Linked DNA regions of Homo sapiens. The gene in region 2 interacts genetically with the main gene of each other region. Each region holds a gene or a part of one and is shown on either strand. Other genes may lie near its edges.

Region 1 (6,925 bases), about 210 Mb from region 2:
AAGGACAGCTATGAAGGGAAGTAGAGGGAAATGGGAGGTATAGGGAAGTGAGAATGTGGGGTCAAGGAAACACTCCTGCCCTTTCTCTTAAGATCGTAAATACGGCCAGGCGCAGCGGCTCAGGCCTGTAATCCCAGCACTCTGGGAGGCCAAGGTGGGCGGATCACTTGAGGTTGGCAGTTGGAGACCAGCCTGACCAACATGGTGAAACCCCGTCTCTACTAAAAACACAAAATTAGCCGGATGCGGTGGTGCATGCCTGTAATCCTAGCTACTCGGGAGGCTGAGGCAGGAGAATCGCTTGAACCCGGGAGGTAGAGGTTGCGGTAAGCCGAGATCACGCCGTTGCTCTCCAGCCTGGGCAACAAGAGGGAAACTCCGTCTCAAAAACAAAAACAAAAACAAAACAAAACAAAACATCATAAATACTAGAGCATATGTGCCGATGCCAGTGTGAAGTGTCTGGATTTATCTAAGCACAGGTAGAAAGCTCCTCTGTAGGTGAAAGAAGGATATGACCAAGACCCCATGTAGAAGGAAGGGCTTTGATAGGAAGGGGGACACCTAGTCAAGGCCATTATTGGCTAAGAGTGAGTGGGGGGAATGGAGCTGTAGGAAGTCGAGGAGGGAGAAAAAGGTATGAAATAGTCATGGGGAGAATGGAAAAGCAAGAATTCCAGACAAAGGCCAGGCACGATGGCTGTTTTTTTTTTGTTCTGTAGAGACAAAACAATTTGTCTCTACAAAAAAGGTTTAAAAATAGTCAAGCATGGTGGTGCAGGTCTGTCATCCTAGCTATTCAGGAGGGTGAAGCAGGAGGACTGCATGAGCCCAGGAGGTCAAGGCTGCAATGAACCAAGATAGCACCACTGCACTACAGCCTGGATGACAAGAGTGAGACTCTGTCTCGAAAATTGAAGAAAGAATACCAGACAAAGGTGGTAGGACTGCCAAGAAGTGTTGACTGCCCATTTGAGATAAACCTTCCATTTAACCAGGAGTAGAAGGATGCTTCTACCTTGGAAAGCAACAGCAAACATCATACTTAATATTCCTGTTAAAATTACAAACAAGACAAAGATGACCAAAACACCACTCTTAGTGAGTCTCAGGGCCTTACTAGTACCATACAATAATAAATAAAATGTGTAGAAATGAAAACGGAAGATTCAAAAGTTATTTGCAGATGACATAATAGTCTACTTAAAAATTCCAACTGGAGCAACTAAAAACGACTAGGGTGAACGAGAATTCAGCAAGTTGGCTGGAAGCAAAGGTTAAATCCTCGTGTTTTGGGAAAGAAAAAAAATCCCATTCGCAACAGCAACATCTAGAAACAACCTACTCCAGCCTAGGCAACATGGCAAAATCCCACCTCTACTAAAAATACAAAAAATTAGCCGGCATGGTGGCATATGCCTGTAGTCCCAGCTACTCGGGAGGCTGAGCTGGGAGAAGCACCTGAGCCTGGGAAGTTGAGGCTGCAGTGAACCCTCGTGGCATCACTGCACTCCAACCTGGGCGATGGGTCTCAAAAAAAAAACAACAAAAAACCAAAAAGCCGGCCGGGCGCGGTGGCTCACGCCTGTAATCCCAGCACTTTGGGAGACCGAGGTGGGCGGATCACGAGGTCAGGAGATCAAGACCATCCTGGCTAACACGGTGAAACCCTGTCTCTACCAAAAATACAAAAAATTAGCCGGGCGTGGTGGTAGGCGCCTGTAGTCCCAGCTACTCGGGAGGCTGAGGCAGGAGAAGGGCGTGAACCCAGGAGGCGGAGCTTGCCGTGAGCGGAGATCGCGCCACTGCACTCCAGCCTGGGCGACAAAGCCTGACTCCGTCTCCAAAACAAAACAAAAAACCCAAAAAAGCCTGTAGGCACAGTGGCTCATGCCTGCAATCCCAGCACTTTGGGAGGCCCAGGCAGGAGGATCACTTGAGGCCAGGAGTTTGAGACCAGCCTGGGTAACACAGGGAGACCCAGTCTCTACAAAAAGCAATGAAACAAATAAACTACAATACACTTCCCATCTTCCTCATAGCTACGTAGCAAGAGTTAAGAGATAAGTAAAGCAGCTGTTGCCACCATGTACCATACAGGCATCTGCCTCCTCCTGCCGTTGGGTCTCCCATCCACCAGCCCACCATAGACAATTAAGACACAGACTTCGGCCCCTTTTCCCGGACACAAGCTCTGGAAGGCAACAGAGTGAGCAGCGCAGAGGGCCTCGGTTCAAGGCCTAACAGCCTCTCCCGGAAGGGAAAAAAAACCCCTGAAAGACACCTCCTAAGAGGACTCCTGTTTGAAATCGTCACCGAAAGCAGTCAATACTTTTGCAATTTAAAAATGCACAAACACAGAGGATTGGAAATCCCGTGTCCGCCAGAACACCAAGTTGTGTGACTCTGCTCAAGCTCTCTGGCCTGTGCCTCGGCTTTCTCATTAGCTGTAAAATGGGCACAATATGAAGCTGAGATAACGCACGAACAGTGGGAGGCAATGCCTGGTTGGCGGTGGGCGGTGGGCGCTGGGTAACCACTAGTCCTAACAAGAAGACGGCGTTAGGAGCCAAGTGGCTAAGCCGGTCCCTTCCCGCTTTCGGAACCGCCTGCTCCAGCCCCTCGCAGGGCTGGCACCGCCCGTGCCCGGAGCGGATGCCGGACGGCGGAACCGCGTTGTCCCCCAACAGGGAAGTGCCACGGGATCGGGACTCGGGAGATCCGGGCTCCGCCTGCGAGCCTCGGTTTTCTCCTCTTCGAGATGGGGCCGCGGCCGGTTACCTAAGGAGGGGCCCCGCCGGGAGGGGCCGGGGGTCGGGGTCGGGCTCGGGCTGCGCCTCCTCGGGGCCTCGGGCTTTCGGCTCCGGCGGCGCGGGCCCATGACACGCCGCAGAGGGTGCTGGCGCCCGGTCCCACGGCTCCTGCTCGGGCTGCCGGGTCCGGGAGCGAAAGGCTGGCTTCTGGGGAGCCCAGAGAACGCTGTGCCGCGAGCCTCACATGAGCCGGTGCTTGGCAGAAGTCCGCGCCGCTCGCGTTCAAATCGCTCGCTCCGCCCACTTCACGGCCGGCGTTTTTTAAAACCCGAATCCAGCGACTCCCAGTGGCTGACTCTGGAACGCCCCTTACGTAGAGCGACTGCAGGTAGGGCCAATGAGAGTATGCACCGAGACACAAATATAGCGGCGATGATAGGAGGACAGGGGAGACTGATGGTAAAATCAACCAATAGACAACTAAAGAGATGGGGCGGGAAATTCTCCTGCCCCCTGCTTGCCAATCTGGTTGCTGGTCTTTGCGGGACCGTACTGACGTCCTCAGGTGCCCTCCAGTCAAAACACCGAAGCTCAGTTTGGAACGTGGATGGTGTGTTTGTAGAACGTGCTTTCTAGAAAAGTCGCTTTCCTCAAACATTTTATGCTTTGCCTTAGCAACGCAGAGATGGCTTTTAAAGATGAGGAAACAGACCCATAGAGAATGTGACAACCCCGTGTCGTATCTGCGACTCTCCCAGGAACTATCCACAGATATACTCAGAATCCAGTTCAACTGCATAAACTTTGCTGACGCTTGGGGTCGCGGGGACGGCGGGATCGGCGGGGCTTTGAGAATAAGGTCCGGGCAGGGCAGGCCTCGGCACTATAGCAACGCAATCGTCCCAAAAAAATGCTCTCTTCCCTTTGTTGGGGATAATAAAAATTCAAGTCATGTCCCGGTATGTAGAATAAGGGGAATTTTAATTTTCTAAATTTTATTTCTTGCATTTTCTAAATGTTCTACAGTGAACATGTAATCAGGAAAAATGTTATAAAATTAGTGATTTCATGGAACCCTTGTGCATTGCTGGTGGGAGTGTAAAATGCTGCGGCTGCTGTGAAAAATAGTATTGGTGGTTCCTCAAAAAATCAAAAATAGAATTACCAGATGATCCAGTAATTCCACTTCTGGCTAAATATCCAAAAGAATTTAAATATAGCCAGGGACTTGAACAGATATTCTCACACCCATGTTGATAGCGGCATTCTTCACAACAGCCCGAAGGCAGAAACAGCCTGAATACACACCAACAGATGAACGGATAAACAAAATGGGGTGTATACCACAATGTTATTCAGCCTTTAAAAGGAAGGGAATTCTGACACCTGCTGCAACATAGATGAACCTTGAGGACGTTATGCTAAGTGAAATAAAGCAGTCCACCAAGGGACAAATGCTGGGCTGGGGTGCGGTGGTTCATGCCTGTAATCCCAGCGCTTTGGGAGGCCAAGTTGTTCGGAACCACTGAGTTCGAGTTCGAGTCCAACCTGGCCAACATGGCGAAACTCCATCTTGCCGAGCGTGGTGGCTCACGCCTGTAAACCCAGCACTCTGGGAGGCCGAGGCAGGCAGATCACCCGAGGTCAGGAGTTCAAGACCAGCATGGCCAACATGGCGATACCCCGTCTCTACTAAAAATATAAAAATTTGCCAGGTGCTGTGGCTCACGCCTGTAATCCCAGCTACTCAGGAGGCTGAGGCAGAGTTGCTTGAACCTGAAAGGCGGAGGTTGCAGTGAGCCGAAATCATGCCACGGCACTCCAGCCTAGGCGACAAGAGTGAGACTCTGTCTCAAAAAAAAAAAAAAAAAAAAAAGAGAAGGGGAAGGAGAAGGAGGAGAAGGAAGAAAGAAACCCCACCTCTACCAAAGATACACACACACACAAATTAGCCCGGGCGTGCAGATGTATGCCTGTCGCCCCAGCTACTCAGGAGGCTGAGGTGGGAGAATCGCTCGAGTCCAGGAGGTTGAGGCTGAACTGAGCCATGATTGTGGCACTGCACTCCAGCCTGGGCGACAGAGTGGCACCTCTCTCAAAAAAAAAGAAAAAAAAAAAGGACAAGGCCGGGTGTGGTGGCTCATGCCTGTATAATCCCAGCACTTTGGGAGGCTGAGGCCAGTGGATCATGAGGTCAGGAGATCGAGACCATCCCGGCTAACCTGGTGAAAACCCGCTTCTACTAAAAATACAAAAAATTAGCCGGGCGTGGTGGCACGGGCCTGTAGTCCCAGCTACTCGGGAGGCTGAGGCAGGAGAATTGCTTGAACCTAGGAGGGGAAGGTTGCAGTGAGCTGAGATTGTGCCACTGCACTCCAGCCTGGGCAATAGAGCAAGACTCTGTCTCCAAAAAAAAAAAAAAAAAAGGACAAATACTGTATGAGGTACCTGGAATAACGGAACTCATAGAGACAGAAAGTAAAATGGTGGTTGCCAGTGAGTAAGGGAGGAATGGGGAGTTAGTATTTAATAGGTGGGGAGTTTTAGTTTGAGAAGATGAAAAATTCTGGATATGGATGGTGGTGATGGTTGCACAACACTGTGAACGTGCTTAACGCCACTGAACTGTACACTTAAAACTGGTTAAAATGGTAAATTCTATGTTGTGTGTGTGTGTGTATATATATATATATATATATTAACCCCGCCCCACAACCGGGTCTTGCACTATTGTCTAGGCTGGAGTATAGTGGTGCAATCACAGCTAACTGCAGCCTTGAACTGCTGGACTCATGCAATCCTCCCACTTCAGCCTCCTGAGTAGCTGGGACTAACAGGAATGTACCATCACACTTGGCTAATTTTTTTTTTTTTTTTTTTTGAGATGGAGTCTTACTTTGTCACCAGGCTGGAGTGCAGTGGTGCGACCACCACTCACTGCAACCTCTGCCTCCCGGGTTCAAGCGATTCCCCTGCCTCAGCCTTCCAAGTAGCTAGGACTACAGGCGTGTGCCACCACGCCCAAAGTGCTGAGATTACAGGCGTGAGCCACCGCACCCTGCCACTTGGCTGATTTTTTAAAAAACATTTTGTGGTGCCATGGTAACTCTGGCTTATCATATAGCCCTTATTATATAGTCATGTATATATAATAAAGGCATTATACAGTTCCCATGCTTAACAATGGGGATATGCTCTGCGAAATGTGTTGTTAGACGATTTTGTCATTGTGCAATCATAAAGTGTACTTACACAAACCTGGATGGTATAGTGTATCACACACCTTGGCTATATGGTATAGCCTATTGCTCCTAGGCGACAAACCTGTGCAGCATGTTCCTGTACTGAATACTGTAGGCAACTGTAATGCAATGGTATTTGTGTATCTAACATATGTAACCTAGAAAAGGCACAGTAAAAAAACAGTATAAAAAATGGGCTGGGTACACTGGCTCACCCCTGTAATCCTAAAATTTTGGAAGGCCAAGGCAGGAGCATTGTTTGAGCCCAGTAGTTCGAGATCAGTCTGGGCAACGTGGTGAGACCCCATCTCCGCAGGAAATAAAAACAATTAGCTGGGCACGGTGGTGCATGCCTGTAGTGCCAGCTACTCGGGAGGCTGAGGCAGGAGGATCACTTGAGCCCAGGAGTTTAAGGCTACAGTGAGATAGGATCATGCCACTGCACCCCAGTGACAGCAACAGATCAAGACTCTGTCTCTAAAAAGAAAAATTTTCCTTCTTCAATAATAAATTAATCTTAGCTTAATGGTAACGTTTTAACTTTATAAGCTTTTGAACTGTAAAATTTGACTCTTGTAATAACACTTAGCTTAAAACACACACTGCAAGTATACAAAAACATTTTTTCTTTATATCTTTTTTTTTTTTTTTTTTTTTTTGAGACGGAGTCTCACTCTGTCGCCCAGGCTAGAGTGCAGTGGCCCGATCTCGGCTCACTGCAAGCTCCGCCTCCCAGGTTCACACCATTCTCCTGCCTCAGCCTCCCAAGTAGCTGGGACTACAGGCCCCCGCCACCATGCCCGGCTAATTTTTTGTACTTTTAGTAGAGACGGGGTTTCACCGTGTTAGCCAGGATGGTCTCGATCTCCTGACCTCGTGATCCACCCACCTCAGCCTCCCAAAGTGCTGGGATTACAGGCGTGAGCCACC
Region 2 (7,381 bases):
GGCTGAGGCAGGAGAATCACTTGAACCCAGGAGGCAGAGGTTGCAGTGAGCTGAGATCATGCCATTGTACTCCACCTGGGTCACAGGGCAAGACTGTCTCAAAAAAAAAAAAAAAGAATGAGTTTGGCTCCCTTTTGCTCTCTCTTGCCCTCTCTTGTTCTCCTACTTTACACCATGAGATGGCACAGCAAGAAGACCATCGCCAGAGGCCAATCACTCAGACCCTCACCACAGGCCAATCACTCAGTCTGGCTGGGACTCACCAGTCTTCAGATCTGTGAGAAATAAATTTCTGTTCATTATAAATTACAGGTTCATTACTCTCAGGTTTTATTATAGCAGCACAAAATGAACTAAGATAATTGGCCCCCTGTGTTTTCTAATTACATCAGTAATGCAAACTCATAATTGCACAGCAAACGCTCATTCTAGAAAATGCAGCTATGGAAAACTAATATTAAAAATAATTCATCACACCATCATCCAGAGACGGCCCTGGAAACATTCTGAGACGTATATACTCACACTTTTAAAACATGTATAATCATACTTTATATTATATAATATATACTTTTTAAATGCACACATAATACAGGTTTATAACCTTTTTGTATTAAACAGATCATATAGAATTTTGATATCAATAATTACACTTCTTCAAAATTCTTGCCAATAGAACACAAGTATCTATCATCATTTATTTTGCCATCCTTCTAGTATTGGACTTTATAAACTGCTTCACGAAAGATCCTCCAGCTAAATTCTTGCCAGCATCCTTAATTACTTCAGTTAGATGTGAGACTCATTCAATCAAACAACACATTTTGTGAGCTTTGGCTGACATCTCGTGGAAAGTCAGCTTGTTGCCTATTTCACAGCCTCTGTGTTTGCATCAGCTCTAGGGCAACAGAAAAAAGCAAACCCTTTTCTTAGCAGCCTAATAGGTGGGGTCTGATGTTTGCGATAATTTATCTTAGACTGACATTCTCACCGTTACACAGCAGTTTCTGTGTCAATGCTGGGACCAGCCAAAAGCTGCGCTTCTCCAACCACAGACTGGTGGTAACATTTCCACACCTTTCCAACAGAAACATATTTACATGACAACTCCATGCAGAATAAGTCTCCATCTCTTTTATTTGAAGCAAAATTCAGGCACATTTTATAAGAGCAGCCGTAATATAACTTTAAAGAGAACTATTTCCTAGGCATTTAAACAGCACTTGGAGGGTTGGAAATCCCAGCCCGGCCAGTAGAGGGCACTGTGCAGGGGCAGCCGGAGCCACCCGCCGTCATCTCTGGAAACCCTGTGAGATTCCAAGATGCTGCACCCAGAAACCTGCTGCTGGGGAAGGAGCTGACTTGTGATCCTTCCCTGTTATGTGGGAGTGGAAAGTGGTGGCAAAGGAGTTTGCTTAGCAGGTCTGGAGTAATATGGTTAGGCTGCCAAGGGTGGTAGGGTGAGGTGTTACAGAGAATGGCATTAAGGGAGGAGACCACTCCTCATATTGCCTTATGCTCAATTTCTGCCTCTAAAGAAAGAAGTAAAAACTAAAAGGCAGGAATGAAATCCACAAGCAGACAGCCTGGCGCCACACCCTGGGCCTGGTAGTTAAAGATCGACCCCTGACCTACTCGGTTATGTTATCTATAGATTACAGACATTGTATAGAAAAGCACTGTGAAAATCCCTGTCCCGTTCTGTTCCATTCTAATTACTGATGCATGCAGCCCCCAGTCACTTACCCCCTGCTTGCTCAATCGATCACGACCCTCTCACATGGACCTCCTTAGAGTTGTGAGCCCTTAAAAGGGACAGGAATTGCTCACTCGGGAGAGCTCGGTTGTTGGAGACGTGAGTCTTGCCGAAGCTCCCAGCTGAATAAAGCCCTTCCTTCTTTAACTCGGTGTCTGAGGGGTTTTGTCTGCGGCTTGTCCTGCTACAGCATCACATGAGAAGCATGATACAGGGTTCTTCTTTCTTTAGCTGGAGCACCACTTTAGACCATGGGATGGGGAAAGCCAGTCAGAGACGACTGGAAGACCACCAGGCCAGAACAATAAGGGTTAATGCATGGACTTTGGCTGGCTCAGAAGGAGTTTGGCTAAAGCAAGTATGTTTTGGACTTCAATTAAAGACTTGAACTTGAGATTGAGAAATCTTTCCACTGAAGCTGCCCCCAAACTCCTAGGACAGAGGCAGATGCTTGGATTGTCAGTGAAGCCAGCAAAGGAAATCTTGGAATGGTTTCCCAGGAATAGAGAATAAGCCCTGGGAGACGCCAGTTTTGAAAACTGGTACTATCGTGCTTGTTAGAGAGTCATGGTGAGGCAGGAGAATAGGGAACTGGGGTAGCAAAGGGTTGAGGCATAAGCAAAGGAACAGCAGATGCAGCCAGTTCGCATAAGCAAGAGAACAGCAGGTGCAGCCAGTTTTAAGCAAGATTGGGCAGGACATAGGCTACATCTTCACTCCCGTGATAACAAGAAAGAAGTTTCCACTTCAGCCCCTGAATGACTGCAGGCCAAGTTTCCACTTTAGGCTCTGATTGGTCACAGGCCAATCCTTCATAGGGTGTAACCAATTGGAGGCCTCTAAAGGGTACCCAGGGGTGTTGCCAAGTTCTTTTGGCTTTATAAAAACCCTAATTGAAGAGGCTCTTGAGCTGCGGGCTCCAGTCCGCTCGCACTCTGTGAATTGTCTTCAATGAATCTGTGCTTTCCTTACTCCGTTCTCCTGTTGCTTTGTTTTTCGTTGCTTCATTCCTTTGTTACTTTGTGTGTTTTGTTCAATTCTTTGTTCAACACACCAAGAACCTGGACAACTCTATCTGGTAACAATGGAAGAGTCAATCATCCAAAACTCAAAAAGAAAAAAGAAAATCTTATTCAAGGTCTCAAGTCTCTAAATGGGCCCAGTTAGATGTTTGAAAAGTAAATTATGTGTGGGAAGCACAGAGTCCAAGGAAGAGCATGTTAAGTTTCTGAACACTCCTAAGGAAGGAGGAGGAAGACACCTCGGTCTGTTTGTGAAAATTGGAAAAGGTACAAGTTAAATGTGTAGATCCTGCAACTGGAGAAGACTCAGAGAGGATGTTTATATAGGGAGGAAGGGAAGGAAAGAAACAGGATTGGTAGGTTACCCCATCCAATTCCGTGGAATTGAGAGCTCGGAAGATAAAGTGGCCCAGGGTTTTCTTCCATCAGACTGAAATGATACAGCCTTCCTGTTCCCACCTGGATCAGTCACTGGTGCTGGGCCACCCTGGGGCAGCAGGACCTTGGGTGAGGGAGTTCTCTGCAACTGAATCATCCCAGAATAGGCTGACAACTGAAGGCCCCTGCCAACTGCCCTCCTAGCAGCTGTGGCATCTTAAGGGGAATCAGGCCAGCACATCTCTGTGTCCAGCACAACGCAACACGTTTTGTGGACACACACACTACATGAGCCCTGAAGTTCTTACCCTCCACCCACTCCCACCTAAATTTCCGCAGGACATCATGATAGAATTGCCGTGCAGGCTGAAAGGAGGTGAAGAGCCCCCTCTAAGGGACCTCCTGGTGCTCAGTAATGCTTTTATTTTCAATCACATACTATGGTAATCATATCAGCACAAGCACACAAATGTGGTTAAGTGATGAAGCTGAATGAAACTTTCCTAAGATGTCAATCATAAATTCCATCAACCATACTAAAGACTGATTTATCTTGCTCTTCTCTCTGGAGAAAATATTACAAGATTAATATCAATGAAGAAGCAGAATATGCAATCAGAAATACATAGGGAAAAAGCTGGGTTAATAGAAGTATTTTCCTGGATTTTGTGATGTGTATCGCATTTGTCAGCATCTTTAAATGTGTCATTCGTTGAGACTTATTTTTTCCTTCTAGATGAATATTCGCTATCCTGCCTCCTTTTGGGTTGGTAATTTGGGGTTGTCTTTCTTAGGCCCCTGCCCTGGAAACTGCGCCGGGATCCCAGGCGGAGGGGTGAGGAAGGCGGACCTCGCCCAGCGGCGACACCCAGAGCAAGTCACGCAGAAATCTCCAGGCCGCACTTATCTCCGGTGCACAGCGCGGGAGATGACACGCATCCCACCGGATCTCGCACAGCACCGCTGATGAATAAGCACACAGCTGTTTGTACAACTACCACCGGCCGTGGCGGCCGGAGACCCTCCCTCCCTTCCGCCGGACATTGGGGCGTGGCTGGAAACTCGGGAGTGGATTGGCCGGAAGGTGGGACGCAAATTTGTTTGAAAGGCCCAATCAGTGCCCGGCTTCTCCGCTCTAGCCAATAGAAAACCGAGAGGAAGGCAGGGAGGGCGGAGTCTCCTATTTGAGTTTGTGGCGCGCGAGGCCCTGCAGTCCGGGTTGGCGCTTGGGTACTGGCTGGGTCCGATGCTGGGTACGCTGCGCGCCATGGAGGGCGAGGACGTGGAAGACGACCAGCTGCTGCAGAAGCTCAGGGCCAGTCGCCGCCGCTTCCAGAGGCGCATGCAGCGGCTGATAGAGAAGGTGCGGCCCCCGCCGGTCCGCCGGGAGGGGAGGCCTGCGTGTCGGAGTGAGGCTGGGAGGGGACGTAGGACGGGAAGGGAAGGGGCTCTGAGGACTCGGAGCGGGGGTTGGGGAAGCGGGACTGGGGCTTGGATGCGGAGAGAAGGTGGAGGCGGAGCTGGGGGCTCCGGAGAGGGAAAAAGGAGGCAGCGCCGAAGGCTTCGGTGCGGGGACGGGGAGGAAAGACTGGGGCCTCCGGAACGGGGAGTGGGGAAGCAGGCCTGGGGCTCGGGTGCAGAGAGGAGGGTTTGGTGGGGCTGGGGGTGCTCCTGAGTGGGACGAGAGAGGCGGAGTTGGGGGCTCCGCTGCAGAGACCGCGTTTGGGGCGCCCCAGGCCAGACTAACGGCCTCTCACGGGCTGGCGCCGCCTCCTCCCGGGTCTGGGGCCCCTCGTGGCCCTGGAACCTGACAGGAAGCCCCTTCCTCCTCCGCAGTACAACCAGCCCTTCGAGGACACCCCGGTGGTGCAAATGGCCACGCTGACCTACGAGACGCCACAGGGTAAGGGTCTTCCCCACCTTCTGAGTATTCGGGTGAAGAGTGTGAATGGAGTAGTTGAAATGCTGTCCCTGCTCTCTTAAGAAGTAAACATTGTTCACCTAACTAATAGGAACCAAAACATTGGTGCCCTTAAACCTGTAAATTACTTGAATTACTTATTAGAACAATTCCTGAAGAGACATAGGTGCCTCCTGGCTCACATGCCTCCGGCTTACCGGGTTGGCATCCCCGCTGGCCACCTCCCCACCATGGCAGCGTGGGGCAGTTGCTTAGCTGGACTGGTCTCAGTGTCTTCATCTGTGAAATGGGAAGGATGATGACAATAATGTCTCCTGGGCGTGGGTGTTGTAACAGTCACGTACAATCCCTATGAAACTGTGAACAGTACCCCGCCCCGCACTGTGAATACTCACATTGACTATTGTTTGCCCTGTTTAACTTGGAGTAGTAACTGTCTTCCTTGAGGCTCCAAGTACTTGAATAGGGAGGAGAAGGCATTCCGTTTAATAGTTAATGTAAACGGACTGAAATCTTGTGGATTCTTTTTGGTAAATAGCTGGTGACACTTTGCACTGGCTGGGGTCAATTCCTCCCATATAGCTTTATAACTAACTCAGTATCACTTAATGAAAACAAACCTCAGAGCAAGTTCTATGTTGCATTAAACGGACACAGAAGGTTCACAAGATCTGCTCCTTGAGTTAAAAGAAATCCTACCTTTCTGCCTTTATAGCCAATCCAGACACATCTTGGGTGAAAAGTTTACACAGGCAGAAACTAAAATATTCCAGTGGCAGGTCTGCTACCCTTTGGTCTCTGTATAACATGTAGATTGCCCTTAGAAAGCATTCATTCAGTATATGGGATGTAGAGATTGCCTGCGAAAAGTGCTTACTCCCTCTATATGGTATATAGATTGCCCTCTATATATTTTAAGGACAGTCGCTGTCATATGTTCCTTGTTTTCATTTAACTTTTTGGGCTAATGATGTAATTTGATGAGCCGTTTTCTAGTAGGTAGGAGAGATTTCCATGAATGACGAATTTGCCTTAAAAACCTGAAACTTTACAAAGAGGAACAATCGCAGGGTATCAGAAACCTGGCTTGGTTTTAATATTGTACCTTTTTTTTGCCTGTCACTTTGGCATCTGGTGAACACAGATTGAGCAGAAGTTCAGCGTTCAGGATTATGTAAATGGTCATTTTTGTTTCTTTTCTTCAGGATTGAGAATTTGGGGTGGAAGACTAATAAAGGAAAGAAACGAAGGAGAGATCCAGGTATTTAGTGTCAAATTTTATTGCCAAATAACCTTGCTGTGGAGGAGTATTCATATGAATAAAGGTGTGGGTATGCCCAACCTCTGAGCTTACGCAGAGGCCACCACGGGGCACTTTTTCTCATGATTATACTCTTTCTGTTTTTAAGGATTTAGAAGCATTTCTTCTGTAGCTTGTCAAGTGCAAGGAGTCACTGTGTAATATTTGGCCTTTTTCATCACCCTGTGTTTCCTGTGTCACAGGCTGAGGGGCTCTGATAATACATGTGCAGAGGCTGGGCCAGTTGGGTAACCCTCCCCAAGGTCACGTGCCAGCCCAGCGAGGCACTCACTTTGTTTGGGTCCTTACAGAAAATACCAAATCCAGTTCCTTCTAGGGAAGAAGAATGTCTCTCTTCCTGTTTTGAAAGGGGAGGAAGAGAGATGAGGAGAGGTGCAGCCTGGAGGATCACACATCTTTCCTTCTGCATTTTTCTACCTTCGGAAGACCCTGGCTTCCCTGCCTAGTTGATCCGAGGGTGTTGTCGCTCTGAGACCCGTTATTTTAGTGGAAGGTGCTGTTGGCCTTTCTACGGGGGCATCCAGGAGCCCTTTTGCCACAGTGGCTTTTGCCAGGTTATCTGGTATTCAGTTAATCACTGCCTCTCAGATGCCACATGGTTCCTCTCTGTGGTCACAGGTCAAGGAACCTGTATGAAAGAATGAAAAACATCAAGATCAATGTGACGATATTAACAGCAAATTTGAAATCAAATCTTCTTGATTAATTATTCTAGTCATAAAAATGTTAAAAGTACATACAACTACATAAATGAGCTGATTCCTCTCTGCAAAGATGGTCACTAATGCTATTTTAGTACAATGTGATTCCCTATAATACATATCTTTATAAATGCATTTTTTTCTCCCTCACTTTTCCGGTTAATACATCTGGCAAACTCTTCTCTTCATCAACTGTTGTATAATTATAAAATTATATAATTATTTAAAAAATCATGTTTTTTTAACTGCTCTCCTGTTGATAGGCAATTAGCTATTTGTGGC

The links.
Region 1: of HJURP (region 2) and CENPA, changing one enhances a phenotype caused by changing the other (phenotypic enhancement), as found in Homo sapiens cells (one study listed by BioGRID).

What each region holds. Positions count from the first base shown.
Region 1 is NC_000002.12:26,782,153-26,789,077, reverse strand, and holds the start of CENPA (histone H3-like centromeric protein A), read right to left. Parts: upstream 3,023-6,925; 5' UTR 2,882-3,022; coding exon 2,782-2,881; intron 1-2,781. UniProt on the Homo sapiens protein: Histone H3-like nucleosomal protein that is specifically found in centromeric nucleosomes. Replaces conventional H3 in the nucleosome core of centromeric chromatin that serves as an assembly site for the inner kinetochore.
Region 2 is NC_000002.12:233,851,522-233,858,902, reverse strand, and holds the start of HJURP (Holliday junction recognition protein), read left to right. Parts: upstream 1-4,367; 5' UTR 4,368-4,402; coding exon 4,403-4,519; intron 4,520-4,992; coding exon 4,993-5,059; intron 5,060-6,281; exon of another isoform or gene 6,282-6,282; coding exon 6,283-6,338; exon of another isoform or gene 6,339-7,381. UniProt on the Homo sapiens protein: Centromeric protein that plays a central role in the incorporation and maintenance of histone H3-like variant CENPA at centromeres.